4 linked regions of the Homo sapiens genome follow. The protein of the gene in region 3 purifies or fractionates together with the protein of the main gene of each other region. This does not show direct contact. Each region holds a gene or a part of one and is shown on either strand. Other genes may lie near its edges. The genes, in order: CCT5, SERTAD4, PPP2R2C and SIK2.

Region 1 (7,337 bases), on a different chromosome or scaffold from region 3:
TCAGGAGTTAAAGACCAGCCTGGCCAACATGGCAAAACCCTATCTCTACTGAAAATACAAAAAAAAATGAGCAGGGCGTCATGGCGCGTGCCTGTAATCCCAGCTACTGGGGGGCTGAGGCAGGAGGATCGCTTAAACCCGGGAGGCGGAGGTTGCAGTGAGCTGAGATCATGCCACTGCACTCCAGCCTTTTTGAGACACAGCAAGACTGTCTCAAAAAAAAAAAGGCCAGTCAGTAACTTTGATCTATAAATATAATTATTGGGATTTCAGGTGGGTGGAGGAAGATTTTTAAAGCAAGAGCAGTTTTTCTTTTTATTTTGTAATGGGGTCTCGCCATGTTTCCCAGGCTGATCTCAAACTCCTGGCCTCAAGCAATCCTCCTGCCTCAGCCTCCCAAGTAGGGGGGGTTGCAGGCTCTAGTACTGCATCCAGCTCAAAAGATTACAATTCTGCAGTAAATCATAGTGTGACAGTAAGGTGTTGTATGTTTACAGTTGGACTGTTTCTCATGAGTACAGGCCCCTCCTTGTCTGCAGATGGGGAACCCGCAGATGTACAAGCCTAGATGCAAGGGACTTGAGCATCTGTGAATTTGGGTATCCTCGGGGGCTCCTGGAACCTGTTCCCCATGGATGCTCAGGGAGAACTGTGGCTCCTGGAACCAATTCCCCATGGATGCTCAGGGAGGACTGTGTTGCACAGTGGTCTTGCAACGCCTGTAAGGTCATAGTCATACTGTCCCTCTTCTCAGCTGTAAATGGGCTGGTAAAAGAATCTGTCTCATTAATGTGTTGAAAATTCAGTGAGATAACACAAAGCACTTGGTTCTCTTTCTTTACGTAAGAATTGCTTATTAAAACTGGAGTCGTAAATGTTATAATACTTAAACCTGTCTGTTGCCCCTTAAATGTAGAAGCTTCTAGACAATAGAAACTAAGTCATAAGTGATTTTTGTAGTCATCAGATGTGTGCTTTTAACCATTGAAATTATATGTAACAGTGTTTGCTTTTTCTGTTTGTTTCATTAGTCTCATATAATGGCAGCAAAGGCTGTAGCAAATACAATGAGAACATCACTTGGACCAAATGGTAAGAGTCCACCATTCCGTGTTTTTTAGCAAAAGATTTAAATTATAAAACTGTCAATATAAACCTCTCTACAGAAAGGTGGAGTATTGAGGGGAGGCATCTTACTTCCTTAACACAGCCAAAATTTTTTAGTGTATTTCAGGTTTCTTAAACATGGTTATAATCGTGTGCAATATTAGGTCGGACCTTTTTTTTTTTTTTTTTAGCATGTAACATCATTTCATTAGCATTTTCCAAATCATAGTTGTCTTTTGAGATTAACATTATACTTAATGATGCTCCATAATGTTTTGCCAATTATGTTAGCCAATCTAAAAATGCCTTCATGCAGCTACTATTTTGTGTATGTTGCATTATTTGTATATAATAAATTGCACAGATAAGAGCTGGGTCAGGAGGTCTTGTTTTATAGTTTGTGATATTGGTTGCCAGTTTTTTGCGCAAAGCCTACTAAACGTTGTTTTTTAGGGCTTGATAAGATGATGGTGGATAAGGATGGAGATGTGACTGTAACTAATGATGGGGCCACCATCTTAAGCATGATGGATGTTGATCATCAGATTGCCAAGCTGATGGTGGAACTGTCCAAGTCTCAGGATGATGAAATTGGAGATGGAACCACAGGAGTGGTTGGTAAGAAAAGACAAAACATCCTTTCTCATTTAAGAGACGTCATTTAAGACCACAGGGCTAACATGCCTGCTGAGATTGTTGTCTCTGAATCAGAGCATGAGGAGACAGACAAATCCAAGTTGAAAACATGCTACAAAACAAATGTCGGACTTTCAAAACTGACAGTGTTACAAAAGAACAGAAAGAGGGCTGGGGATTGTTAGGCATGGAGAAATGTGTAATGATTGATTGGACACTGATTTTGCTTGTCTTTTAAGCTATAAAGGATGTTTGGGAAACGTGGAAGAATTTGATTTTGGATCATGTACTGCAATGCTGAGTTTCCTGAGTGATCTGTGACCATTATATTGCAGATGTGTAGGAGAATGCCCTTCTTCTCAGCTGTATACCTAAATACTTAGGAGTGACATGTCATGGTTTCTGTAACTAATTCTCAAATAGTTGAACAGAAACAGTATGTACATGTAGAGAAAATGTGGCAAAATGTTAATAAGTAAACTGGTATTCGTTTTAGTATTGTACCTTTTTTTTCTGAAGATTTGAAATCTTTAAAAAGTTGGGGAGATTGAAGACAAAATATCAGTAAGGTTACCTTTTCTGCAGATGAAATTTGAATTCATTCAACAAATATTTATTGGATACTATTGTATGCCAAGCACTGTTCTCGGTGCGCTTGGAGAGCTGTAGATTTAAACAAAATTCATCTTTGCGACCCTAAAATGAGGAGAAAGGAGGATGGGGGTGGGGGGAATAAATAATAAACACGTTTTAGTCTCATCACCAGGCTGAATTTCACTGAGTAGACCCTGGCCCAGGAAACATAATAGCTTTTTACCTCTTAGAAAAATGTTCTTTTTACATTATATTCTTTAGTTACGTTCTTCACATCACTGAGGGTTGAATGTTCATCTGTAAGGGGACACATGTCCTATTCGACCTTCGCTAGAACTAAAACGAGGCTTTCTTTTAAAAATAGAGGGCTTCTGCCTCTAAGATGACTTGCAGCTTAATTCTAGAAGCTGCTTCTTTCCATGATAGCATCTAACTTGTGCTGATTATACTAAAAGTGAAGTTTTGTTGTTTGCCTGAACTGATTGTCTGCTGGCTTATTTGCAGTCCTGGCTGGTGCCTTGTTAGAAGAAGCGGAGCAATTGCTAGACCGAGGCATTCACCCAATCAGAATAGCCGATGGCTATGAGCAGGCTGCTCGTGTTGCTATTGAACACCTGGACAAGATCAGCGATAGCGTCCTTGTTGACATAAAGGACACCGAACCCCTGATTCAGACAGCAAAAACCACGCTGGGCTCCAAAGTGTACGTTTCAGTAGATGATATGATTACCCATTTGTAGAGGAGGCAGTTTGTTTGCCATTTCTTAAAGGCAACACAAAATGACCACTGGTGGATTTGTATCGATTTGATTATTTGTTTTGATTACTTGGTTTTGCTTTGTTTTTAATGTAGATGTAGACAGATGCATTTTGTATTTAAGTTGAGAACTGAATTTCTAAGTTCAGGTATAAATCCCCTTGACAATATTTGCAAAATATAGTTATTTTAATTTAGCAGAATAGGTTGTGTTAAAAATCAGCTAAGGCTGGATGCAGTGGCTCATACTTGTAATCTCAGCACTTTAGGAGGCCAAAGCAGTAGCTTGCTTGAGCTCAGGAATTGAAGACCAGCCAGGGCAATGTAGTGGGACCCCATCGCTACAAAACAAAAAACTAGCCAGGCATGGTAGCACACACTTCAGCAACTCCAGAGGCTGAGGTGAGAGGTCGAGGCTGCAGCAAGCCATGATCATGCCACTGCACTCCAGCTTGAGCAACAGAGCGAGACCCTGTCTCAAAAAAAAAAAAAAGTCAACTAGAAAGGGTCCTACCTGGAGGATATGTGAATTTTCTTAACACTTCTTTCTATAATTTCTTTGCTGGGGAGCCATTGGGGGTGGGTTCCACTTTTTATTCAGCAAATTGCCGATCCAAAATTATAATTTAGTAAAGAGAGTCTTGAAAGCGACTTGTCTCTGGTGTTTTCAGCGTTCGTGTAATGTCCGTTTGCCAGGCTTACTGCCAGGTCTTATGGGCACTAAGACACAGCTCTTCTCCCAGGAGACTCTAAGCAACCTCAGCCAAGGGGTGCGCTGATTATGTACAATGCCAAAGACTTAAGGTCTGTTGCCGTAATATAACATAAAAATCCAGTGTAAGCTGCTTTATTACATTATATTAAATCAGTGAGAGATGTTTTCAATTGTGTGCTTGTGGTGGTTTTAGCAAAAAGGAATGAGGGATCTTCTAAACTCAGAGTAGTCAGGGAAAATGCAGGAAAAGTGTCTGCTTCTGTTGCCTTTTCCCCTGAGCAAAGCCTATGTTAGAGCAGAAGCCTTCAGCAATGCCTGCTGTCCTCCTCTAACCACAGATCTCAGCAGAGACTAGCTCCCTAGGCAAGAGTGAGTACCCTAGGGGTAGCCTCTTGTCACAAGTATAACACTTATTTTCTCATGAAAGGAGGACATCATCATTACTTGAAGTGTACAAATCAGTTTTCTTGTTGCTTTATAAGTTGGCCTTGTTCTGTTTGCAAGTATTAAGTCATCTACTTAAGATACAACATGTTTACTTTCATGGTTCTCTTTTATAGATAACCTGTGATTTCAGACATTATTTCAAGTGCTAGGTTTCCCTAGTTGTTTTTCTTGGCTCAAAAATTAATTTATTGAACTGTCTATTCACATGTTTCAAAGCTTTCAAAAAGGTAACACCCTCCATCTATAATGGATGTTGTGGTGAATTCTTGGAAAGTTTAAATGCCCTGTCCAGTCCTTTCAGTTCCTGGTTAGTGCTACACTTCATTGAGATAAGAGTGACTCTTCCTGAGTGATTACTTACCTTTCCCATTCTGTTCTGAACTTGTAAAATAGTAACAGTATTCTGTAAAAGTGCTGCATTCTAAGAAGACCTTAATTCATGCCAGACTACAGTGGTTTCTTGAGTACATTCATAATGGAAGGAAATAGTAAATTTCAGAGTTAGCGAAAATAAAGATGTAATTTTTTCCTATCTAAGTATACAGTCCCCTTTAGGGCCCATGGATCACAGGTTAAGAATCTGCCCCAGACTGTTGAAAATGCAGGTTGAGATGGCATTCCCCTCTAGAAGACTCAAAACATCGTTTGATTTATATCTTTGAGTAACATTGTGTTATGTGGCCTGCTTTGGTTGCAGTAATTGTGAAACCAATGAAGTTTGTTTTGTGGTGTTTTCCTCAGGGTCAACAGTTGTCACCGACAGATGGCTGAGATTGCTGTGAATGCCGTCCTCACTGTAGCAGATATGGAGCGGAGAGACGTTGACTTTGAGCTTATCAAAGTAGAAGGCAAAGTGGGCGGCAGGCTGGAGGACACTAAACTGATTAAGGGCGTGATTGTGGACAAGGATTTCAGTCACCCACAGATGCCAAAAGTGAGCCATTGCATCTCACAGCTTCGCACTGTTGGTTAACTCTTAATTCCACCAATTAAAATGTCTTTATGTTCCCCCATAGAAAGTGGAAGATGCGAAGATTGCAATTCTCACATGTCCATTTGAACCACCCAAACCAAAAACAAAGCATAAGCTGGATGTGACCTCTGTCGAAGATTATAAAGCCCTTCAGAAATACGAAAAGGAGAAATTTGAAGAGATGATTCAACAAGTAAGTCTTACCAGAGTCCTCAGTGGAATTTAAACTCCCAAAGGGTACAGTTAGTTAGGTTTGGTTAGTAAATATGTGTAGTCTTTCTTCAGTTCTAAAACATACACAGGAAAAAACCAAATTGCATAGAAAGGCATAAACAGGGAAGAATTCTAATTTTGTCTTAAAATGGTAGCGTGTTCAGGCCAGGTGCAGTGGCCATGCCTATAATCCCAGCACTTTGGGAGGCTAAGGCAGGCAGATCGTGAGATCATCGAGACCATCTGACTAACACGGTGAAACGCCATTTCTACTAAAAACACAAAAAATTAGCCAGGCATGGTGGCAGGCACCTATAGTCCTAGCTACTCAGGAGGCTGAGACAGGAGAATCGCTTGAACCCAGGAGGCAGAGGTTGCAGTGAGCTGAGCTTGCACCACTACACTCCAGCCTGGGCGACAGAGCAAGACTCTGTCTCAAAAAAAATGGTAGTGTGTTCAGGGTCCTGAAAGAAGTGACCCTGTTACCTAAAGCCGTGCTTTCAATTGTACATATTATATTTGCCGTCCTGGACAAATTTAACTTAGCTTACCTTGCCTTTAAGATTTCTGACTATACCTTTTAGGCAAGAGTTAATGAGTAACTGGAGTTAAACCAGAATGCACTCATAGTAATCCCAGTTCTTTGCTCAGTTAAGTCTAGTTTGGGTTCATGAATACCTTAGCGTAGGTGTGCTTTCTCTCTGACATAGCAACTCCTCTTTGGGGGCTGCGTCCTTGGGAGTTGAAAACACCAGTACTCAAGAAGACAGGAACGTGGGTTGGTTAGGGTATTATTTATCATAGCAAACCAACTAGAGACTATTTTCATGTCTGTTCTTGGGAAAGTTGTTGAATGTACTCATTGATGATACGGTTCTTGGTGCCTACGACATACCAGGCTCTGTTGTAGGCACTAAAGGTACAGCAGGGAATGAAGCCAAGCTCGTGCTCTTGAGACACAGATAAGAGAAAGGTGGGTACAGCTCCATTACAGACACTGGTCAGAGAGGTGACCTGTAAGGAGAGGCCAACATAGGGTGAGAGCAGTGCCCCTGGGGGAGGAGCATTCCAGGCTGAGGACAGATGGGGATGCTCCTGAGCCAGGAACATTGTTGGCTTGTACAAGGAAGAGCCAGCCTCAGGGATTGAAGCATGCTGGCGGGAGCTTATAAATAAAAGGCCATCATCTGGGCCGGTGGGACAGTTTTCATGAGAATGGTGCCTCAGCTGTGCTGGGGGGCCACAGATAAATTGAGAGGCCAGGGATGTTACTGGATCGTGCTGGTGAGGCGCAGGTTGCTGAGAATGAGAAGGGAATGACGATGGGGCTAGATAGTAAAATGTTAAAGAATGAGAGGCAGGGACCCAAAGAGGAACACTGCAGGTGACTGAGGAGCAAGAAGGACCCTCTCCTGTTCTGAGCATGTGAGAGGGAAAGCAGCTGCCATCTGAGGAGGGTTGCAGGGGCAGGTTGGTTTTCCGGGGTTGTGACGGAGAGATTGTATAAGGAGGCTGCTGTTCTGGACTGAGTTCCAGAGGGTCAGGGAAGGAAGAGAGGGAGAGCCAGGCAGTAGCAGGTAGCCTGGGAGGCCTGATGGAGACAGGTAAGCCAGAGTTGTGGGGCACGGTGTGGCAGTCCCAGGTGAGCACCAGAGGTGGGGTGGGCAGCCTGATCGTTGCCCTCCTAATTGGGAAAAGTGACTTTGCCATTTGCAGGTCGGGGTGAGGGTGCTTCTTACTGGAAGCAGGGTTGCCTCTGTGAGTGCCCGAATTAGTTTATGGATCCACTGAGGATTGTCCACTCAGGTGAGACAGTCAAGTTGCAAGTGGTTCATAACATTGTTTGTTTAAAACATACTCAGGTGAAACTACTCTGTAGGTGTTTGTGACAGGAC
Region 2 (7,568 bases), on a different chromosome or scaffold from region 3:
CTTCACCTATTCTAAGAGACAATCATATCAGGAAATACTATTGCCAAGAGCACATGAATTACAGCTTTTCAACAGTCAGCAGCCCTTTCTTATTGAGAGAATCAACATTTTCTAGTTTGAAGTTTACACTCACTTTTGTGTTAGATCATGGGAATAAGATGCAAGCCTTTTGCCTATGCAGACTTTTATTTCATGTAAACAAAAGCAGGTTGTCAAACTCATGCCCCTTAAGAAAGAAAAACATTTGCAGGCTCCTGGCAGCAATTACTTTTGTTTAACAGGACATTATATGGGCCCTGTGCTGTTTTATGTTTGTCAGAGTTTGTTTATATTTTAATAACTTTTTGGTAGTACCTTTTTTGGTTGTGAGGAATTTCAGCGTTTCTATTTGTTAGCATTATTTCCAGCATATCCTATTATGCACGTGAACTTGAAACATGGCATAACAGTATTTATCTTGGCTATTATTTTGTTCACAATATCTAATTTTACTAAGTTTTTCTTTTTTAAATTGAGAACTGTTACACACAAAACCCTAAACTAGAGAGGCTGAGTTCTGCAAGTGATTTATGTAAATCTGAATAAAACATGAATGAGTTGGGATTATTTGGGAGCGGGGAGGAGATTTTGCAATTGAGTCTTCCTAGTCTATTTAAAACTTACACTGGATGTTAACAAATTAAGAAGGCAAGTTGAATGTTCACGAAAAATTGGACAGGGCAGCGTTAAGCACAAATGCTTAACGTGAATCTTTCTTCGTATTATATGTAGAGATCTAAACTGTCATAATTCTCTGTCTGATAAGATTTATAATTCTGCTACTGACGTCAGCAATTCAAGTCCACAAATTCGTGTTCTATTAATATTAAATAAAGAAAAGGATATACATTATGGCAAAATTTATTTTCTAAGATCAGAGGTGATGGATTCAACAGGAGGGTGTTAGAGTGTGTTTTGTCTATGCATGGGTTTAAAAGATAAGAAAAAAAAAAGCCCTAACCCTTCATCCTCAGGCTCCTGAATGTCTGTTTTGACACCCAGGTGGATGTAGTGGAATGACACTTCCAGCATCCCCAGAAGACTGAGGGCTAGAATGCCAAGCTTTTCCAGCAAATGTTCGTAGTAAAGTTACCAGGCATTTCTATACAATTTGTTTTTTTCCAGATGAGTTGGGCTTGTTCTTTCCTAGAAGCAATTATGATGCTAATAGGAGTGGCTGGCACACAAAACAGGGTAGCTATGAATTCAGCGGCACCTTGAATCTAACAAGGGGCTCCAGGTCATTCTTTGCTCACTTCTTCTTCCATCTGTCATTGAAAATTGGAGAGCATTTGATTAAGATCATTATAGCAGTTAGCAGTCTGATTCCAGCACTGGAAAGCAGGGAAGTAAAGGGCTATTTCCACCCCCGATCGATGCTGCCAGTTTTAAATGGCATCAAGCCCCTGACCTCCACATTGTCCCAAAATGATCTCAATAGCTTGTCCGGCTCCTGGTGGTGGTAGTGGAAGGGACTGGATGGGCGGAACAAAATTCTTCAACCCTTCTAAACAAACAGATGTCGCTTTTCTGCCGTTCCTGCAGTACACCTGTCTGCCCTGGGAAGTACATTTCTCAGCTGCAGCCCCGCGAGGCCAAGAGCTTGAAGCTGGGTCCTGTGGTTGGGGCTGCAGGTGCTGGGCCTAAAGAGCACGAAGGGGTGCTCCGATGCCCGAGCCCTGGTGCCCAAGGTGTGTGTGTGTGTGGCGGTTGCGGGGGTGGGGTCCGAGGTTTGGAGGGCCGACCTCTTGAAGGCGGGCGGCAGCCACCAACCACATCCTGGCTCCCGCACAGACACACCCCCGGGGTGTCGGTGCCGCAGCCCTCAGCCCCTCCCCGGGTAGCCAGCAGCGCCCGGTCGGCCGCTGGCCGCAGGAGAAAGTAAACAACACCCCAAGTGTCCGGGAACAAAGGCAAGTTGTCTTTCTACGGTGCCGCAGCCGTGTGCCTCTTCTGAAGAATAAGAGCTATTATTATTCTTTATGTCTTATCCTTTTTTTTTTTTAAAAAAAAAACCAAGTTTCCTTCTAAGGGAAATAAACACCAAAGGTAGGATTCCAAGGAAATGACTCACAGCGGCTGGCAGGGCTCTGGCGGGGCTGGCCCGGGCCCCCGCGCTCCAGCCCGCAGCAGATGTCGGCCCGGCCTTCCCTCCCTCCCTTGCCGGCCAAACCCGCTGGAAGCCCGCGGTTGCGGGAGCGCCCTGCGCCCGTGGGACCTGGCGGCGAGGACGCCTATTCCCTGCTTCTGCGACCACAGCTGGGCACTCGGAAAGTTGCTAGGGCCGAAGAGGCGGGAGGGGAGGAAGGGAAGCGAGAGGCGGAGGCGTGGACCAGGCGGGCAGCAGCCTCAGCCCGCCGAGGAGGTGAGCTGAGGACAGAGGAGCCGCCGCCGCCCGCAGCGCAGCTCTGCTGCCTGGGAGGAGGGTGCGGGGGCGGAGGTGGCGGGGGACAGAAGGTGTCAGCTACTGCATCAATTCCTTTTTCTTGCAAACGCGCGCTCCTGACATCCACAATCCCTCTCTCCCCACCTGCCAAGCGCCGCGGCATCCGGACCTGGGGGCACCCCTCCTACTTAACCCCTTCCCCTACGATGAGGGACTAAGCGGCCACGGAGGACCATGAGGTCTCACCAGAGCTTCTGACCCCACCCGCCCCTGGAGTTGTCTCGGTGCGCGCGGGTGGCAGCCCGAGCAGCCCTAGAGGAGGCGGCGGTTCCCGCCCTGGTGAAGGCGCCGCGGCGCACGCTAGCCCAGGGAAAAGCCCGCGCCGCCTCCGCGCCCAGCTGTGCCTTGGCCCCCACGCCGCCCCGACTCCGCTCCGGCCGCTGCGAGTCCACTCGGTGACCTCGGCACAGCCCTGGTGCCAAGAGGGCGCGCGGGAGGCCGCGTGGGTGCCCGTCTGCGAGGGCAGGAGCCCCGGGGGGCCCTCGCCCTCCACCCTGCCCGGCCCTCCCGCCCCCGCGGCCCGCGCCCAGCCCGGCTCTTACCGCGGGGTCAGCGGGGAGGCGGCGGCCGCAGCGCTTGAGCTGCTGCTGGTCCGCTCTGGGCTCGGCGCCAGCCCGGCCGCCGGTGCACACTCGCGGGTCCCGGCCCGGCCGCCCGCTCGGCGGTGACTGCGGGTGCGCGGCGGGCAAGGGTCCCGGCAGGTCCCGCCGCCGCGACTGGGGCGCTGCGCCGCCGTCGCTGCAGACGGTTATGGTAATGAGCGGCTCTGTCTAGCGAGGAGCGTGTGAAACCCGTCAATCCTGTTTGCCATTTCCCCGTGGATTTCCGAGGAGAGGTTCTGCAGGATGCCCCCAGGGTGAGAGAGGGAACATGACAAGCGCGCCCGCTCTCCCTCCCTCCCTCTGCTCAGGCCGCCGCCGCCGCTCCTCAGGCTGCACACGGGGCGCCTTTCCCGCACCCCCACCCCAGCCCGCCCCCTGCCTCCTTCCCTGCTTCCCGCCCTCCCTCCTCCTTTTCCTCCCCTCCCCTCCCGGTGCCCGGGGACACGCGGGCCCAGCTCCAGCCCGCAGCCCAGACCCCACGCGCTCTCGGGCTCCCGCCCTAGCCCTGGGGGCTTGGCTCCAGCCGAATAATGTATTCACTCTGGAACCTTCCGAGATATCTTGTCTTTTTAAATTTGGTTTAGTTTTGTTGTTGTTGTGTGTGCGTGTGATTAAAAAAAAAATCTGTGCCTTTCCCACCCTTTGCAAAAGACTTTCTTCTCCTTTGCCACAGCAAACGGAGATGAGAAACAGATGTCTTTGCAGGACCAAACAGTTATTCTCCCTCGCCGCCCGCCCCCGCCCGTTTCCCTCCTGAGCTGCGTACGTATTAAAAAAAAAAAAAAAAGCAACCTTGGTCCTGCTGCAACTTGAATTGGCAACCCTTTCTGGGTGGGGAGCCTCCAGGGAAAACCTCCAGGAAATAAAAAGTAATACAAGAGATTGTCCTTGCTCAAGAGAATGTAATTTAAGCCTTGGAATCAGAATATTTTGCAAATAGTAATTTTCTCCTATAGTGGCCTCAGAGTTTATTTTTTAAAATCATTAATTCATAACTTCTGTCTAGGGACCCCTCCATAGTCGAGATGGGTCATTTCAGGTGTAATGAAGGCAGAGGCTTGGAAGGCATAGACCTAATAAAATCGGGAGAAGGCACCTGCACAAAAGTGTTACAAAGACTATAATGTTTGTTTACTGCCACTATACCAGATGTGCTAAATATAACACTTCTTTAAAACAGTGATCCTCCGACTGTGAAAAACCAGACCTCTGGCTGCCTGGCTCCCTAGGAATCAAGAAGACGCACAGACTGAAAATCAAGGGAGGAAGGAACAAGATCAAGGATGAGGATTAGCATCTGCAAATTGAACTCTATCTAATTTGCATGTTTATTTCTTAGAATTGTAATTAAATTTGTGTAATAAATGTTTTCCATTTCATTTGTACACTTAAAACTTGGGTGACTGACATGCAGTTAAGTGAATTTCCTTTTTTTAAAAGCAAATGTAGATTATTCAATAAAGCAGCAAACCAATATTAAACATAATTAGAACTAATTTGTTTTGAAGGTGTTTTTGTTGAACTTTGTACATTAAAGACTCTCAGAGGTTTTAAGGGTATTAGGAAGCTGAGAGATGGCAATTATGCTTAAAACAGATGAACCCAACAGCCTACCAAGAGCATTATTTCATTTTTTCCAAAAGACATTCCAGGGTTGCATGCCTAAAATTGGGAATTGGGCATCCATCTTGGCTTTATTCTGAACCATATTAAATTGCATTGGCTCATGCATGATGTGGGCCATTATGATGATAATTTAAGAATTGTAAAGATGCCATTTTGTGCAGTCAATGGAAGTTGCATGTCCAGGTTAAGAGTAGAGTATAATTTTCATCTGGGTGGGAGAGGAGGGTTAGGAAAGGCACAAGGGCATTTAAAGCAGTGCAAGTACGTAGAAATCCAAATTTCCAAATAATCTAAAACTGGTTATTGTCAAACTCAAAAGAACTAAATGTGAGGGTTTGGAGGCATGGCTTATTATGGTTTTTATCTCCCTATATTAAAGTTTTATGGCATTTAAAGGACTATGGGTAAATCCCCATGTACACTTGGCTGTGTGAAAATACATAAAATCAAAAGGAGCAAATTAAGCATAAAATTGAGAAATAACATGAGACTAAGTTATCAGCATGGGTGCACTGGCATCTTTGGAGCTTTGGCTCGGAGAAATGAGCCTTCTGGGAAACTGGCATTGCCCTTGGGTGGAGAAGACTCTTGGCTTTAATGTTACAACAAAATGGTATCACAAGTATCAAATCATTGTACTTCACAGCATCCTTGCAGTTCTGAGTATGAACTAGACCCTGTCCTCATCAGATACATTAGGTTAGCATGTTTTACTGACAGCTTTCCCTGCCCTACCTTTAATCCTAAGCTTAATGTTTTTTGAGATTCAATACCCAACTGTTGACAACATGAACCTGTGTCTACAAGTACAAGAGGCAGACAAATGTCTATGGAATGAGAAACCTCATTACAAATTTAAGGTGACTATGTGGTAGCTATGGCATGAAAAAAGAACCAACTATAAATCAATAATGAAAAATTTGGAATGAGTAATTGTTATTTATAATGAGGTACAATATTTAATTGACAACTATGATGTCATCATTTTGGGGTGTGTGTGTGTGTGTATGTGTGTGTGTGTGTGAGAAGCTCCAAATAGAAGTTTGATTATAAAACTTATAATACTTTGAGCTGCAAATTTACTGAAGGCAGTGGTTGTTTTCCTTTGTTTAACAAAGAGACTTTCAGACTTAAAATTGCTGAAACCCATTTCACAAAACCTTTTTGTCATTTGTCTGATAGGGGGATTTCACAAGTAAAATTTGACTTATTCAGATTGTTGTGGACACAATACCCACTTGGATTAATTGAAAGTTAAAATTACTGGCTTAAAAAAATAGACCATTTTTGGCTGGGTACGGTGGCTCACGCCTATAATCCCAGCACTTTGGGAGGCCAAGGCGGGTGGATCACCTGAGGTCAGGAGTTTGAGACCAGCCTGACCAACACGGCGAAACCCCGCCTCTACTAAAAATACAAAAAATTAGCTGAGCATGGTGGCAGGCGCCTGTAATCCAGCTACTCAGGAGGCTGAGGCAGGAGAATAGCTTGAACCCAGGAGGCAGAGGTTGCAGTGAGCCAAGATCGCACCACTGCACTCCAGCCTGGGTGCAACAGAGCAAGAATCCATCAAAAAAACAAACAGCAACAATAAAAAAAAAAAAAACATTTTTTTAATGGCAAAAAGAAGCATCTGCACCCAATTCCTCTTCTATTCTCAAACCTTTTCCACTGAGGCTTTCTTATCCGATCACTCCATTGAAACTGTTCTGGTCAATGTCACCACTGACCTCCACGTTGTTAAATCCAAAGGCCATTTTGCATCTAACTTGACCCTTAAGCAGCATTTGACCCAGTTGCCCACTCCCTCCTCCTTTAAACGCCTTTATCTTGGCTCCTGGGACAACACATCCACCTGATTTGCCTCCTGCCTCACTGGTTGTTCCTCTCAGTCTCCTTTGCTGGTTCCCCCTCTTATCTAGGACCTCTGGATGTTGGGTTGCCTCAAGCTCAGTCCTTGCACCTTGTCTCTTCTCTACAGTCACTCTCTTGTGGATCTCATCTAGTCTCTTCCCTTCAAAACTCTCTATATTCTGATGACTCCCAAATTCATATCTGTAGCCAAGACTCTCTTCTGACTTCCAGACTCTGTGTAGATGCCTAATGGGTATCACAAGCTTTACAGACCCAAAACTCAACCCCTATTATCTCTGCTTTCCCAACCTATGCCACCTTTAATAGTCTCCTTCAATAAACAACAGTATTTTTCTACTTGCTCTGACAAAACTCCTTAGAGTCATCATTGATTTTTTTTACTTCATCTCCTTTATCTAATATATCAGAAAGTCCTTGAGAGGCTACCTTTAAATTTTTTCTTGACTCGGCCAGGCGCGGTTGCTCATGCCTGTAATCCCAGCACTTTGGGAGACCGAGGGGGGTGAATCACGAGGTCAGGAGATTGAGACCATCCTGGCTAACATCATGAAACCCCCTCTCTATTAAAAGTACAAAAAAAAAAGTAGTCAGGCATGGTGGCATGCACCCGTTGTCCCAGCTACTTGGGAGGCTGAGTCAGGAGAATCTCTTGAACCTGGGAGGCGGAAGTTGCAGTGAGCCAAGATCGCACCACTGCACTCCAGCATGGGTGACAGAGTGAGACTCCATCTCAAAAAAAAAAAAAAAAATTTCTTGACTCTGATCACTTCTCATTATCTCTACCACCACCATTCTGGTCCACGCTTTCATCATGATCTTCTGCCTAGGATATGACAATGGCCTCCTAACTGGTCTTCCTGCTTACATCTTTGGCCCTCTTTCTAGTTCAATCTCGGGTCAACAGCAATGGTGTCAATTTTTGCCAAGGCTCTTCCTAGAGCTCCCCATTCAAAATAAAAGCCATGTTCTTGTAATAGCCT
Region 3 (8,144 bases):
CAGGTAGAACAGGAGTTTGTGCACCTGGTTCTTCCGCAAACTGAATTTTAGCATCCACTGTTTGCCCACAGGCTCTTCCAGTTACAAGGCATATAAATAATAACAATGCCATGTGTTCAATGCCTCCAACAACCCAAGCACTGTGCTGGGCACTTTTGATATTAGCAAAATCACTGATCATCCCAGCAACCCTGTATGAAAGGTCGTTATTATTTCTCCCTTTACAAAGGGAAAGTGAAGCTCAGGAAGGTGTAGTAACTTGTCCAAGGCTGCACAGCAGTCAGGAGTCAGAGGCAGGACTTTAACATGATTCAAGTCTGACATTCTGACATTCAAATCTGTGACCTTCCCTGTGCTCTGAGCATGAAATATAGTCAGGATGCAACAGTGTGAAAGTGTGTTTTTCATTAGGGAGGCCAGAATTCTACCTATTATAATGATTATTATTGTTTCTTGTTCCGATCCTGCTCTCTGCATCCGCAGCACCTGAGCCCTATGCCCTGCACACACTGGCACTCGGTCTGGACCAGGCACAAGGCCAGGCCTTGGTTTGTTCATCTCAAGGTGGGGATAAGGCGTAGGTGAGCCTTCGTATGAGGTCCCAGCACACAGCAGGTGCTCAGCATCCTTTGGCTGCACGTTAGCAATGCATAGCTCTGAACGGCTCCTTCAACACCGTTGCACCTGCTCCTCACAGAAACCTCCAGACCCTGTAGGCAGGATTCACTCCCATTTTACAGATGGGGAGACTGAGCCCTGGTGAGAAGACAGACCTCAAGGTCATATAGCTCCCTGATAGAATTCAGGCCGCACAAGGGCAGGGAGTCTTTGTCCAGTCCCCAGGGATAAAACAGTGCCCGGCATGCAGCAGGTGCTCGGTAAATATCTCGTGTCTGGATGAAGGATTGGATAGCACTGCTCTGACCTCCAGAACTGTGCCGTCCCCGTTCCTGTGCCCTGCTGAGGGCTGGTGAATTTATGAAAGAAAAGGGGACGGGCAGGGTGCAGAGGGAATTAATGTTTGAAAATGTCCACCATGGCGCTTTTTACGCCTGGTCCCACAACGAGCCCTGCGCCCCATCCCACCGTCATCCCCAACGTAGAGATGAGCAAACAGAGGCTTGCTCCAGGAAGCCAGACCACAGCGAGCCTGGGAGCAGCGGGGCAACCTGCCAAGATCCGCTCTCGGCCCGAGCCAGGCCACCGAGGCACGGGCCAGCAACCCGGCGGCTTCCTCCAACCCTCTGTCGCTGCAGGCTGCGAGCAGAAACCACATCCCGGACCCACGCTGATCCCGACTCAGCCTCGCCGAAGCAGGCGACAAAGGACCGCTCTCAGCTCCCCGGGCCTCCCAAAGCCGCGGCCGGGTCAGAGCCCCACCGGCCCGGAGGCCCGGGCAGCCCTGCCCCTCTCTCGCACACACCCGGCGGCGAAGCGTGCGTGACTCAGCGGTTCTCCCGCCGGGAGCGGGCGCGGCCCCCGCAGCCTCCCTCCGCCCAGGTCCCACGCCCAGCCTCTGCCTCCCGGGCCAGGGCGCCCCGAGCCCGCCCGCGCCCGCGCTCGCGCTGCGCTCCCCGGGCCTCCGCGGGGCTCCGGCTCCGCTCGGCCTCATTTCCGGCAGAGCCAGGCTTCGAGGAGGCGGACCCAGCCGCAGGAGCCCGGTCTCCGCCGCCTGGCCCACTCGGTCTCCCTGACACAGGCACCCACGCGCACCTGCCCCGCGGGACCCGTGCCCAGGGCCCCTCCCACTGGGGCACCCACCCGGGGAATCCGCGCACACTTCTGCGGCCGGGCCGCCAGCCCGTGGGTTAGCGGCTGACAGTCCCCGCACTCGGGCAGGGCTCCAGCACAGGCGGCCCCGAGCCCAGACCTCCCGGTCCCCATCCTCCATCGGGGTCACTCCGCGGGCCCTGCCTGCGCACGGAAGCTGTCCCCACTGTTCCCCTAGCGAGGCAGACCAGGGGGCCCCCGGAAGTTCCAGGCCTGTAAGAGAGGGGCGCTGACCCACCAGCCTCGGGGGTAGGGTGGGGGTGGGGGTTGGGCTTGTAGGGCCAACTTAGGGGATTTTAAACAGGGCCTGTTTGGGATGGCATGTCCCACTTTTTTGGAAAATCCCGACAGTTAGCCCAGCTGCTCCTGTCTCAATATAACTCACCAGGAATAAAAAGGCCAGCCCCAAACCAGCCGCCTTCTCCCTCCCACTCAGGGACCCTGCCTCTGGAGGACAGGGAGGGGCCCGGGCAGGCGGGCCTCCCAGGAGGATCTGGCAATGGATTATGTTTTTTTCCCCCCGGGTCCCTCTTCTTCTCCAGGGAGAGGGCAGCCTAGAAAATTCTGCGGGCTTTGGGCAGGGCTGAAATGGCAAATCCAGGATTTAAACCATTAAATTTCCCCGAGATTTCTTCACCAGATTAGCCACAGCCGTGGCCTTTTAAAAAATTATGGTCAGGGCCGAATCAGGATGCCACCTGGCTTGGGAGAGGAAAGCTGCCTCCCGGAGGGCGGCGCGGAGGAGGGCGCTGCCCTGTGCCGGCGCTGGGCAGCGGAGGCCGGTACCCTCGGGCTCCCTCCCTCCTGGGCCCCGGGCAGGGTGGGATGGGATGGGGTGGGGTGGGGTGGGATGGGGTGGGGTGGGGTGGGGCGGGGGGACACGACACACATCGCGCGGTCCAAACCTTCGGAGGGCATTCGGTGCGACGGCATCCCCACGCCGCGGCCGGCCGGAGGGGTCTCAGACAACACGTACGTTACCTTCAGTCACATAGCTGTGGTCCCGCAGGAAGCTGTGGTTAATTTTCCGCGTGTCCGTGTCCTCGCCCATTGAAGGCCGTGCCCGGTGCTCTGGGCATGCCCCGCCGCCACACACCGATGCAATCCGCAGAGGTCGCGCCGGGCGCGCGGGCCATGCCGCCGCAGCCTAGCAGGGGCGCGGGCCGCCGGGGCCCCGAAGGGAGGGCATCGCGGCAGGGGGACGGGCGGGGGCGGCCGGGGGCGGGCGCCGCGGTCAAGCGAGCGCGCGGTGGGCGGGCGGCGGCCGCGGGTTCGGGCGGGCCGGGGCCCAGGCGCGCATCCCGGCCGGCCCGTGCGCGCTGCGTCCGTGCGCCCGGCGGCGGGGCCTGGTGCCGGTGCGCCTGGCTGCGGCGACGGCGGCGAGGGGACGCGCGCGGCGCTGCGCTGCGCCGACCAAGCCGGGGCCGAGCCGGGCTGCGCGGGCTGGGGCCGCCGCCGCCGCCGCTGTCGCAGGCCCCTCCCTCGCGCCGCCCGCTCTCCGCCCCCGCGGCCCTGCAGGTGGAGCCGGCGCCCAAGCCGAGGCTGCACCGCCGTGCTCGGGCCCTCGCGGTGGGCACCTTGGTGCTGGGTGCGCCACGGGGGAGGGAGGAAGGAGACCGCCAGCTTGCGGGGAGAGGGTGATCAGCTGAGCTTGGGGGGAGGGTACCTTGGGTGCCCAGGTGCTCCAGTTATGGGAGAGAAGGCCAAGAGCCGGGGTGCTGGGAAGGGGGCAGGAGGAGAGCAGCCTCGCAGGCAGAAGGCAGAAAGGACTAGGAAGGAAGGAGTGGGGTCGCAGTTGAAGAGGGCGCACCTGGAGAATGGGGACTCGGGGGAGGGGAAGGACACTGTCTCCCTTCATTAGTAGAAGAGGGTGGGTCGCGCAAGTTCTGGGGCCCGTTGGGAGCATTAAGTACATGTGAAGAAGCTGGTGGAGGGGGTCCAGCAGCCGACAAGGCAAAACTGGATGAAATGGCTGGAGGGGTGATTGGGCCTCCCCCAGGCAGGGCTCTGAGATCTCTCCTCATGCCCACCTCTCCTGACGAGTGAGAAAGTTAAAGAAATACAGAGCTAGGTACCTCCAAAACCAGGCTGGAAAATGCGTCCCCCTCCTCCCTTCCCTCCCTCCCCTCCAAACCCAGGGCTCTGCCAAACAGGAACCTCCCTCTGGTAATCAGCCTGGCACATAGTGGGCCCTCAAAAAATATTTGCCTCCTGTTTTGCCAAGCTGCCACCTCCTCCACCGTGACCCACCGCCTAATGAATCACAGTCCCCTGCACGGGACACAAGCCCCAGTGGGGATTCAGAGGTGTGGGTGAGGAACCATCAGCCCTCCCTAGGAGCTCAACAGAGCCTTCCTGGAAAGCGAGGGACTCTGTGGCTTGCCTGGGAGGGGTAAGTGCAGTGGGGTGACCAGAGCTGCAGGGGCTCTTGGGTCTAAGGCATCAGTGGAGCCATGCTCCAGGTGGGGGCTGGTCTGTAATGGCCTCCACTTGTTTCAAATGGTTCTGGGGGAACTCCAGACAGCTCCCCAAACTGCAGTGGAGGTAGGAGAGTCCAAAGGCGTTGGGGGCAGGGAGACTGGGGCTGTGGGAAAGACGAGGGAAGGTGATGCCGTCTCAGATTTCTTGGAGATTGAGAGGGAGTTTTTGAAGCTACAGCTTTCGTGCCTTTGAAATCCCCAGAATGGACCTATGAGGAGATGAAAGCCCCCCAGCAGCCCCACCAGCACTCTGCAGGCTGTCATGCAAGGGCTGGCCTGGGGAGAGGCCCTGGGGCCCTGCCAGCACCTGCTTTGGCAAGTGCCCTGCCCTGTTCCAGCCTCTACCTTTTCACTGTGGAACAAGCCAAAATCTCCCAGCTGTGCAGACTCCATTCAAGGACCAGGTAAATGCAAGGGCCGGAAGGATGTGCTTGTTCTTTGTCACTTTCTACCCCGTAGGAAAGTGACCGACACCCACATTGGCCCCCACCCACCTGGCATGTTCTCCTCTCTCTCTCTCACCTGTCTGCTCACATGCCCCCCACCTCACATCCTAAGGCCAGCCCCCCACTCTCTGTCCACACCCCCTCACCTCTCTAGCTGGAGCCAGCAAAATGGCTATGCTGGGAGAAAGACAGGCTGGGTTCAAGTCCTGACCACAAGGGGGCCCAGGCACAACCTCATCTGTAAAGTGGATGTGATGGCAGGAGTGGCCCCACTGGGTTGGGGTGGCCAGTCCTGCTCAGCAGGGGTCAGGCCTCCTGGGAGCTCTCTTGTTATCATGCTGAGGCCCACCCTCCCGCATGTTCCTCAGCCTCCCTCTCTGATCATGGAGAAGTCCCCTCTCCCTATCTGTCAATCCTGCCAAAACACCCACCCTATGCTGGCATCAGCCTCATCTCCCGGGATGTCCTGGACTACAATGAAAACAGCCCCACTCTGGCCTGACACAGTACATCATCCCTTTCATCAGCTTCTGAGCCATGCTGGGGACCCTGCAGTGGGTGGTCTTTCCAACCTGACTGGGCCCCAAGGCTTGCATCCATCCCCTCCTCACCCCTCACCACCCCATCCTGCCCCACCCCCACCACAAGCAGTGTCTGGGCTCCTCCACACTGTCTCCTCCATTTCCTGGAAGCCCTCCCCCTCCAGCACAACCGAGGACTCTCCCTCAGCCCCCTGCCCACCCCCCACCTCCACTAAATCACACAATCTGCTGCTTCCTCATCTGTATCTGCACACAGCCCTGCCCCCGCTGACAGAGCCTGAGCTCCAGATCCTGCCACCCCCAGCCTCTCTGTACAGACTCCTCTCTGTACTTTCATTCATTCAATGAGGAATGTTTATTGAGCATCTACTATGTGTAGGCATGTTCCCAGCACTAGGGTAGTGTGGAAGACAGAATAGAGAAATGCTCTGCTCTCGTGGAGCTGGCCTCCCAGTGGGGTGAGATGGACAGCATAAAGTGAGCATGTACTGTGTGGGCCATGACTGGTGCAGAGGAGAAGGCGGGAATGGAGATGGAGATGAACGGGGATGGAGATGGGGATGGAGATGGAGATGAAGGCGGGGATGGAGATGGAGATAGAAAGGAACGGGGAGGAGGAGGTGCCATTTTATAAAGGTGAGTGTAGAGGAAAGCTCAATAAGGTGAAATTTGTCAGCATCTCTCCAGATGCTTCTCACAGCGTAAGCCTGCTTGGGTCTCTTCCACATTCAAAAGCTATCCTCACTCCGTGTCCCTTCAGCCACCAGCACATTGCATTTCTGCCATTCACAACCACAATGCCAAAAGGGTACAGCTACACTCGCCATCTCCTCACTCACTGCCGTGCCCTCCAACCTGGCTTCTTGCCATCCATCCCACCCCAGAAAAGAAACTTGTGTCAGACGGCATGAGAATGACTTTCCTGTTCCTGGAACCAGTGGACGCATGCTGGCCTCTCTCTATGCTGAGTTCTCGTGGTCTCACCCTGTGGACCATGCGCCTCCCTTTACTTCAGTGGCACCACCTTTCGCTGCCACTTCTCAGCAGGTTTACATGCTCCACTCCTTCTGACGGCCCCACCAGGCTATGTCTCCCTGTGCTTCTGTGCCCCCAACTTGTTGTAATTGACAGAGAGAACATGCATGGAAAGTGTGCTGTGCACCGCACCATGTCCCCTCAAGTGCACAGGCTGAAGCCCTAACCCCCAATGTGATGATGTTTGCAGGTGGGGCCTTTGGGAGATTTGGGTTAGACAAGGCCATGAGGGTGGGGTCTTCATGGAGAGATTAGTGCCCCTATAGGAAGAGACCAAAGAGCTTGCCCACTCTCTCCCCAGGTGCTCACGGGAGCACACGGCGAGACAGTGGCCGCCTGCAAACCAGGAAGGGGCCTCACCATGAACCAGATTGGCCAGAACCTTGATGTTGGACTTTCCAGCCTCCAGAACTGGGAGGAAGTACATTTCTGTTGTTTACGCCACTTATCCTATCTTGTTTATTATGGCAGCCCAAGCCGACTGCACAAAAGTTAACTGTTCAGCTTGAAGAACGACCACAAAGTAAACACTCATCTAACCACCAAGTCAGGAAAGGGCGCTAGCCACCTCTCGAGGCCTCCCTCACTCCCCTCTCTCTCCACTTCCATGGACTGAACAGCTGTTGACTCCCAAAATTCATATATTGAAATCCTGTCCCCTAATGTGATGGTTTTAGGAGGTGGGGTCTTTGAGAGGTGATTAGGTCCCAAGGGTGGGGCCCTCATAATGGGATTAGCCGCCTTATAAGAAGAGACGTGAGAGAGTTTGCTTCCCCTCTCTGTCCCTCTCCCTCTCTCTCTGTCATATGAGGACACAACAAGAAGTTGGCTATCCACAAATCAGGAAGCCCTCATCAGACACAGGATCTGCCGGCACTTTGACCTTGGACTTCCCAGCCTCCATTACTGTGAAAAATAGATTGTGGTTTATGCCGTCCAGGCTACAGTATTTTTGTTCTAGCAGTCCAAACTGACTAAGACACCACCCCAAAGATAACCCCCATCTTGACTTTTAACACTGTAGTTTTACTAGTTTACTAGTAAATTGTAAGGTAGGAATGTTTTCATAACTGCTTTCATTTGCACAATGTTTTTTTTCTGAGAAGCACTCATGTTATTTATATATATGTAACTGTAATTTATTCATTTTTCATTGTTGTGTAATATTCTATGGCAGAAATACACTGCAGCTGACCCCACTGTTGTTGGGCACATAGGTTGTTTGTTCAGTGTGGAGGCTAATTATGAACAACAATTCTGTGGCTCAGCATTCATGTGTACACAATTCTGGGAACTGGCTGGGTGCAGCAGTTCATATCACCAGCACTCTGGGAGGCTGAGGCAGGCAGATTGCTTGAGCCCAGGAGTTCAAGACCAGCCGAGGCAACATGGGAGACCCCGTCTCTACTAAAAAAATGCAAAAATTAGCCAGGCATGGTGGTGCATGCTTGTGGTCCGAGCTACTCGGGATGCTGAGGATCACTTGAGCCTTGGAGACAGGGGTTGCAGTGAGCCAGGATGGTGCCACACTGCACTCCAGCCTGGGCCACACAGCAAGATTCTCTTCAAAAGAAATTCTAGGAATTGCTGAGTGATAGGGTCTGTTTGTTTAGCTTTAGTCATGGACGTCAACCAGTTTACCAAAGAGGTAACAGAAGATTGTCCCTGTTGATCCACAACCTTCTTAAATGAGGTATTGTCATTTTGATTCTAGCCATTCATCACCTCTAACGCCAAACCCAGCATCCTCTCTTAAAACTGGAGGCTGGGCACGGTGCCTCACGCCTGTAATCCCAGCACTTTGGGAGGCTGAGGCGGGTGGATCACAAGGTCAGGAGATCAAGACCATCCTGGCTAACACGGTGAAACCC
Region 4 (8,240 bases), on a different chromosome or scaffold from region 3:
GACAGAGAAGAACCAGTTAAAAATAAAAGGGTCCTAATTGCTCATTACATAGATGATTAAGCCCTAAAATTTGCCTCAGAGTCAAACTTGGGAAAAAAGACCTCTAAGTTTTAAAACACACAAACTTGTATCGATGTTAAAGCATAGTATATAAAGAAACTTTTATCGTCAATAAGTATAATTGTGATATTTTGCTGATATTATTTTTATACCATATTCATTGTTCCACTATAACTACTGTAGTATGTTCTGCCATGAAAACTGAATTTAAAACAAAAGTTTTAATTAAACATCTTATAGTTTTTAAGGTAGTTGTATTTATCAAAAACACACAAACATTTATCCAGTGAATGAACGAATAAGGATAAATAACTGCTGTAAAAAACATCATTAACAATGGAATTGTTACTCCCATGGAATACTTTAAGAAACAATTGGGCCAGGCGCGGTGGCTCACGCCTGTAATCCCAGCACTTTGTGGGGCCAAGGCGTGTGGATCACTTGAGGTCAGGAGTTCGAAACCAGCCTGGCCAACACTGTGAAACCCCGTCTCTACTAAAAACACACAAATTAGCCGGGCATGGTGGTGAGCGCCTGTAATCCCAGCTACTTGGGAGGGTGAGGCAGGAGAATCGCTCGAACCCAGGAGGCAGAGGTTGCAGTGAGCCGAGATCGCACCACTGCACTCCAGCCAGCCTGGGCAACAAGAGCGAGGCTCCGTCTCAAAAAAAAAAAAAAAAAATTCAGAGCAACTTTACAACCTAGAGATCCAGAGAACTTTTCTGTTCAAAGATTGCTTTGACATTTCACTTATCCCTCTCTACCTTAATATCTCCAATCACACCCACCAAATTACCACAGATACCCTCACCCATCTCAAATTCACACTATTTCTTTTTATATGTTAATAACAGCTTCTTTAGAAAAGCACAGGGAAATGGGTTCTGCGGACTAAACATTTAGCTTTTAACGTAAATCATTTTACACATATATACTACACACACGATTTAGGATCTAAGTCCTCTTTCACGATCTGACCGGTGCTTGTTCCAATTACAAATGAATGCATTGATCTCACTCTGATAGCCAAACCACGGTATTACTCCATAGTGCCCCCTAGCTCTTTAAGATATATTAGTTTAAAACGGACACCATTTGAATTGTCAACCTCAAAGTGTCAATCACTCCACTTAAGCAGCTCTTACTGTATTAACTAAATTTGACCTGATAAATAATAGATGACTTAATTAAATCTTGCTATTAATCCCAGTAAGAGCTGATGAGAAAAAAATATTAAGAACTGATGGATTTGGAATTCAACCACACGATATACTACAGTTCAAAAGTTTTGTAGAACCTCTCTATAACTCACAATTTGTTTGTTTTTAGAAAGTCATTAAGCAAGGACTCATAAAACATGCATTTAAAATGCCTTCTTTTATGTAACTTAAAGGGAAATGGCATGGCATAGGCCATGGCTCTTCAGAGGAATGGAACCAATTTCTTCATTTTAAAAAATGCTGGGATCAGATTAAGATTTAACAATATCACTATAGTCAAGTTATCATTATCATTACAAACAATCTAAATTGCTAACTGGTAAATCTGTGAGAAGAAAATATCTGACCTTGGTCCTGATTCTAAAAGATAAGTCAGATTTGGACTGGTTCAGGACCAGCAGGGGAAGGCAAAAAGTAAAGAAGACAGAATGACATATACCCCTTCCTTTTGGAAACGGGATTAAGCAAAACTTCTAAGTACAACTGCAACTCCAAAAATCACTCACGTTTGCAAGTGCCCTTCGCCTTACATAAGTCATTCTGAAAAGAAGTCCTACTTTATTCTACACTCAAACTCCAGTACATTCGTACTAACAAGGGAAAAAGCAGAATAGGACCAAAACTGGAGGGCAAACAAACAGGAAAAGGATGAAACTCCAGGAGGAACTACAATAAGGCAGAGTAGAGTACGTCAAAACCACTAGGTTTTATTCTAAAGAATGGTTTTGTTTCTACCGTTCTTCTAAGGTATTTAATTTGCACGTCTTAAAATAGAGACCCTGAGGAGAGCAGCTTGAGGCAGTGGAAGGAAGGGGGGCGGGTTAGGTAAGAACAGAGACTTGTGAGAGAGTATGTGCGGTGCATTAGAATGTGCAATGAAGAGGGTGCAGGATTCACCGTCAGGAAGCAGTTGAGGGCTTTATGAGTAGAGGCAGAATCTGATATGGTTTAAAGAATGCGTATTACAGCCAGAATGCACACCTGGTACAGTGACAACCCTAGACAAGTAGAAGACCAATCCACCCACCGTGCAAATGCAGAGATGACCATTTTAACCAGTTCTATTGTCTGGGGCATTAAATGGAAATGCCCCAGGCAAGAGATCAAGCTAGCCAGACACCAAATCAGAGACACCCTGGGCCAAAAGGAAGGAGAGGAGATGGACAGTGGCCGTGGGGGTATTCCCAGCCATGGGGCCCTTCCTCGTCGGGCAGGGGAGGGGCGCCGGGGTCACGGGGGCCGCACGATCCCCCATCCGCGGAGCCCAAGCGCAGGCGGTCCCCTCCTCGGGCCGGCGACGTCTCTCACGGCGCAGCCTGGGAACACCGAGACTTCCCCTCCCACCCCACCCCCAGCCGAAAGCAGGGAAGACGCGGAACTTGGGCTCCGGAGCGGAGGCCACAGACCAGGTCACGGCCCGGGTGGGGGGCTCTGGGCGAAATTCCGGGTGGCCACCGGGGGTGGCGTAGGGGAAAGCAAAGCCCCGGCTGGTTGCGTTTCCAGTCGGACGACACTCGGGTCCGGGTGCCCGGGCCCGATCCCTTCGCTGCTCACCGACCCCCTGCACCTCCTGGGTCCTCACAGTCCCAGGCCCGCTCGCCTCCGCCAGTGAGGCGGCCTCTCGGGTCTCCCCGGTCCCACCACTGCGGCCGCCCCTCTCGGTAAGCAGCTCCTCTCCCGAACCCTCGCCTCGGACGCTCCCGCCGAGCCCCGGGCCGCACCTCCGTCTTGGTGATCCGGTGCCGCCCCAGCTTCACCACAGCGAAGTTGCCCTTGCCCAGCGTGCCCTCGATGTCGTAGAACCCCACCCGGACCGGCCCGCGCTGCAAGTGCCTCGGGCCATCCGCCATGACCATGCTGGGCCCCGCTGCTAGACACGGCGGACAGGAGCGCGGGCGGGCGGGAGGGTTGGCAGCGCGGCTTGGCTTGGGCGACGGCCGCTCCGCTTGCTCCTTCGCTCCTTCGCTCCTTCCCTCCCGCTCCCCAGGGCCCAGCCAGGCGCGCGCCGCCGCTGACGTGCGCCGACGTCAGGGGGCCGGGGCAGGGGGGCGGGGGCGGGCCCGAGCCTGGATTGGTCACCATGGCGACCGAAGCACCGCCGACGTCGGCTGCTGGAGAGTGGGGGACGGCGCACGGGGAGGGGCGCGAGCCTGGCCGGCGCGCTCCTTCCGGGCTCAGACGCCCTCCCCTCGCCCCTCCGCCTCACCGCTGCCAGGGGCGGGGTCGCTGCTCGGCCCGCTCCGTTCCTCGGCCTTCCAGGCGAAGGGCAAGAGCGAGCCCTGGCGGACCGTGCGGAGGGGTGCAGAGACCTGGATGCGGCCTGCGATCTCCTTCCCCGCCCCGGCGTTCTCCGCCCACCCGGGGTCCTTCCCGCCAAAACCTCTCACCTACAAGTACAGCGCGTCCTAAATTTGGCACCGGCAAAGAACTGTGGCTGAGCAATGCGTTGCTCACAGGCTCCTTTCTTTGTGTCCTTTTCTCTTCTCGTTGCTATATATAATAAAACCCTCCACGTTTTGATGTCTCCGAGGAGTCATTCTGACAGCAGTGCAGTCGCTTATAGACTCACAGAATGTCAATGTCAGCGCTGAAGAGATCTTGGAGATCACTTAATCCAGAGATTTGGAGCCTCATGTGAGCTTCAGAGTTTGGAACCCCCTAAAACACAGGCCAGTTTTTGCTTATGTGAGCATGTCTCTGGGGAGATGGACCCGTAGCTTCTGTCAGATTCCCAAACGCGTTGGTGACTCTGAAAAAGTTTAGAAATATTTCTCTAATCCAATTTTTTTCCCCAAAGGACGAAGAAGACCTCAAGGAATAAAGGGAATTGCCTAGGTCACACAGGCAATAGTCGAGGTAGGATTATAAATCACACCACGCTTCCAAATGTGACTCAAGGAAACAGGGACAGTGACACCTCACTATTTTGAGATGTATCATATGCCTTTATATCTTGGTTTCTAAATACCATTCTCCACCTAAAGGAGCCAGACTCCGTGGCGAGATGGCTCATTCGAGGGCAGAGACAGGGAAAGTATAAAATGCCCTTGAAAGATCCTGCTCCTTAAAGCAAGGAGATTTCTTGGCTATGTCAAGGAAGATATGTCAAAAGAAAGCAGATGGCTCGAAGGTGCTCCCCCCTTACCAAATCTGAGACAGTTTGAGTATCAGGAATAAATAATGGGCCGGGCTTAGTGGCTTACGCCTGTAATCCCAGCACTTTGGGAGGCTGAGGCGGGTGGATCACCTGAGGTCAGGAGTTCAAGACTAGCCTGTGTGAAACCCCATCTCTACTAAAAATGCAAAAATTAGCCGGGCGTGGTAGTGGGCGCCTATAATCCCAGCTACTCGGGAGGCTGAGGCAGGGAGAATTGCTTGAACCAGGGAAGCAGAGGTTGCAGTGAGCCGAGATCGTGCCACTGCACTCCAGCCTGGGCGACAGAGCGAGACTCTGTCTCAGTAAATAAATAAATAAATAAATAAATATAGAAATTGATTCTAACACATTGAATTTTTTAAAAGAATCGTAGAGCATACTTACTTTTAAACAGAAAAATAAAGAGGGGAGAAGTGAAATGACGGTGGAATGCCAACTAATATATGTTAGAAGAAATGACAATTAGCAAATCATTTGGCAGCCATTACAGTAATAATGGATTCAGACAATTATCAATAGATGTTAAAATCATTGAATAAAATTTGGCTGGGGAACAAGATATTTGCACAGTCTTTGGATTTCTTATTCATGATAAAGGGTTAACAAGGGTACCTCTACAGTGGAGAAATCTGACCGACACTACCCTAACCAAATGATCAAAGTTAATGTCACCAATTATGTGATAAAATGACATGATGTGCCTCCAGATGTGAGGCACTGAGGTTACAATATCTCTTAAGTAGTATTCCTGTCAAAAATGCATATTATGATCTAGAAACATCAGAAAGATGCAAACTAAGAAACATTCTACTCAACAACTGACCTGTATCCTTAAAAAACATCAGTGTCATGAAAGTCAAAGAAAGGCTGAGGAACCATTCTAGATTTAAGGGATTTAAAAAGGCATGGCACTAAAGGCAACATGTGGTCTTGAAAAAACATGCTATAAAGGAATATTTCAGAACAACTACTGAAATTTGAATATGGATTACATATTAGATAAGATACTGTTTCAGTGTTAAACTTCTTGAATTTTATAATTGTACTGTGATTATAAGAGAGAGTATCCGTTATTAGGAGATACACACTAAACAATTAGGTATAAAATTTTTGGCCGGGCGTGGTGGCTCACACCTGTAATCCCAACACTTTGGCAGGCCGAGGTGGGCATATCACTTGAGGTCAGGAGTTCAAGACCAGCCTGGGTGGTGGTGCGCCTGTAATCCTAGCTACTCTGGAGGCTGAGGTGGGAGAATCGCTTGAACCTGGGAGGCGGAGGTTGCAGTGAGCCAAGATCATACCACTGCACTCTAGCCTGGGTGACAGAGTGAGACTCTAACAAAAAACAACAAAAAAAAACCTTTTGATATATGCAACTTACTGTCAAGTAGTTTAGCACAGATAGATAAGGCAAATGTGGCAAAGTTTTAAATTGATAAAATAGGTAAAAGGTAGGTAAAAGGGTATGTGGTAGATCGTTGTACTGTTCTTGCAACTTTTCTGTAGTTTTAATTTTTTAATGAAAATTAATATATTGTGTATTATTTTATTTTAAAATTTATATATATATATTTTTTAGTGCAAGATGGCTTTTGGGCCCTCCACTGCTCCCTGTGCTTCTGCTTTTCACTCTCCCCAAGCAATACCTTATTCTACCATGAGGTATGTTGTTTGCAAAAGTGAGGGGAGAAATGGGGGAAAGCTGTAAGGCTGATCAGATTTCTGAATTGATGGGAGTGGTGTATGAGTGGTCCTCTAACTAGTGAGAGGTATTCTAATTAGGCTAGGAACCTACATATGTATACCAGTTCAAAAATAGTTCCCATGTGCATTTTGCCACTTAGATGATTGTATTTTTTTTTTTTTTTGAGGTGGAGTCTTGCTCTGTCGCCAGGCTGGAGTGCAGTGGCATGATCTCAGCTCACTGCAACCTCTGCCTCCTGGGTTCAAGCGATTCCCCTGCCTCAGCCTCCCAAGTAGCTGGGATTACAGGCACGTAGCACCATGCCTGGCTAATTTTTTGTATTTTACTACAGACGGGGTTTCACCATGTTGGCCAAGATGGTTTCGATCTCCTGACCTTGTGATCTGCCCGCCTTGGCCTCCCAAAGTGGTGAGATTACAGGCGTGAGCCACCGCGCCCAGCCAGATGATTGTATTTTAATTGTTCTGGGGGTGGGTTCCTTTGGGAATCTGATGAAAAGCCACTTAACCAAGAACCAGAAAATACGCAGGGAGACCCACTACAGTGAACAACCTCATCCTTTAAAGTATACCTGTTGAATGGAAATGGATTCATTTGAGTATTTAAATTAGATAACCAGGCCAAACACCTACTTGCACAGTCTGGGAATAAGAATTGATTTGGGGCTGGAAAGAAGAAAAAGGGAGGACAGAGAGTACCAAAAGGTTTTGGAAAGCTGGAGTTAGTGTGAGCATGCTGGGTGTCTACAAGTTAGAGAACAGGAGGCCAGAAAGAGGGAAGAGACAGAAGGGGCTGTGCCAAAAATCAGCCTTACTCATGTGGAAATGCAGTGGGCGTGCTACTCAGCGTTACTGGTAGGCTGTAAATGAAACCCTGAAGAAATACATATATGTGGACTAATTTAGAATACTGCAATCTTGGATTCTGTGATTCAACTCTTTCCTTAATCCAAAAGACCTACTCATCCCTGTCCTATTTCAACCCTGCCTGTCTCTTATGTATTTTTGTTTCCAATTAAATGATAGCTGTATACATTTTAGCAATTATTAATATTATCCAACTCCTGCTTTCCTTTTCTCTTCCTCTCTCCCTCTTTCTCCTCTTCTTTCTCTTTCCCTACACACACACACACACACACACACACCATCCTCAGGAAAAAAGAATAAAGATAAGAGGGAAAAGGAGAAGAAAGAGAGCTTCATACAATCCCCATCTTTCTTTTCCGTCTCTGGTTTTAGTATCAGTGAGGGAAAGCACTCTAGTCACCAAATTCCTTTTTGCTTGAGCTTTCAGATGCAGCATTCCCAGCTGATGCTGTGGGTCTATGATATTTAGCATTGAGTTGGTTAAAAAATGTTAACAGAACACTTTAAAAGGTAAAAAGGTGTACACAGAGAAAGAATTAAGTAAGATAGTGAGAGACTTAAGAATTAATTCTATAACCTACTTAGAATAAAGTGGATTATAAATAAATATGTGGAATGAGGAGACGAGTTAGCAAAGAGGTAATGAAAAAGTGATCTGAAATGTGAGGAAAGAAGACTTCATGGCTCACAATTCTGTATATTATTTTGCTGAAGCAGACAGCCTGTGAACCTGAAAAAAAGATATGTACCATTTGTCTCCCAGCTACTGGGGAGGCTGAGGTGGGAGAATGGTGTGAACCCAGGGGGCGGAGCTTGCAGTGAGCCGAGATCGCGCCACTGCACTCCAGCCTGGGCTACAGAGTGAGACTCTATCTCAAAAACGAAACAAAACAAAACAAAACAAAACAAAAAACTAGGCTTAGGCCTGGATTTAGATTTAGTTCAAATAAAAAACTGATGAAATCTTTATTAGACAACTTTGCTTAGAAAAAGTAGATTACAAAGCTAGAATGAATACTTTGCCTCTTATATTAACAAAGACAGAAGTACACAAGAAAATCCAAATCACTGACCTGTGCTCATTCCAAGGGCTTCTTATTAGTATAAAGTACAGCTATTCATGAAACAAACATCAATCAGTCAGGTTAATCAACATGTGGATGCCACTACATGTAAGGTACCATTATGGAAATAAACTAGAGGATTGAAGTTATTTAAAGAAAACTTTCTTT

What was found.
Region 1: the proteins of PPP2R2C (region 3) and CCT5 purify together in Homo sapiens (affinity purification with mass spectrometry; 5 studies listed by BioGRID and IntAct, with this or other methods). This does not show direct contact.
Region 2: the proteins of PPP2R2C (region 3) and SERTAD4 purify together in Homo sapiens (affinity purification with mass spectrometry; 5 studies listed by BioGRID and IntAct, with this or other methods). This does not show direct contact.
Region 4: the proteins of PPP2R2C (region 3) and SIK2 purify together in Homo sapiens (affinity purification with mass spectrometry; 5 studies listed by BioGRID and IntAct, with this or other methods). This does not show direct contact.

Annotation. Positions count from the first base shown.
Region 1 is NC_000005.10:10,253,114-10,260,450, forward strand, and holds part of CCT5 (T-complex protein 1 subunit epsilon), read left to right. Parts: intron 1-1,031; coding exon 1,032-1,092; intron 1,093-1,560; coding exon 1,561-1,725; intron 1,726-2,841; coding exon 2,842-3,040; intron 3,041-4,997; coding exon 4,998-5,190; intron 5,191-5,272; coding exon 5,273-5,422; intron 5,423-7,337. UniProt on the Homo sapiens protein: Component of the chaperonin-containing T-complex (TRiC), a molecular chaperone complex that assists the folding of actin, tubulin and other proteins upon ATP hydrolysis.
Region 2 is NC_000001.11:210,228,471-210,236,038, reverse strand, and holds the start of SERTAD4 (SERTA domain-containing protein 4), read right to left. Parts: upstream 3,244-7,568; 5' UTR 3,028-3,243; intron 2,405-3,027; exon of another isoform or gene 2,154-2,404; intron 1-2,153.
Region 3 is NC_000004.12:6,469,409-6,477,552, forward strand, and holds the start of PPP2R2C (protein phosphatase 2, regulatory subunit B, gamma), read right to left. Parts: upstream 3,207-8,144; 5' UTR 2,822-3,206; coding exon 2,752-2,821; exon of another isoform or gene 2,704-2,751; coding exon of another isoform or gene 2,676-2,703; intron 1-2,675. UniProt on the Homo sapiens protein: The B regulatory subunit might modulate substrate selectivity and catalytic activity, and might also direct the localization of the catalytic enzyme to a particular subcellular compartment.
Region 4 is NC_000011.10:111,597,460-111,605,699, reverse strand, and holds the start of SIK2 (serine/threonine-protein kinase SIK2), read right to left. Parts: upstream 3,252-8,240; 5' UTR 3,137-3,251; coding exon 3,002-3,136; intron 1-3,001. UniProt on the Homo sapiens protein: Serine/threonine-protein kinase that plays a role in many biological processes such as fatty acid oxidation, autophagy, immune response or glucose metabolism.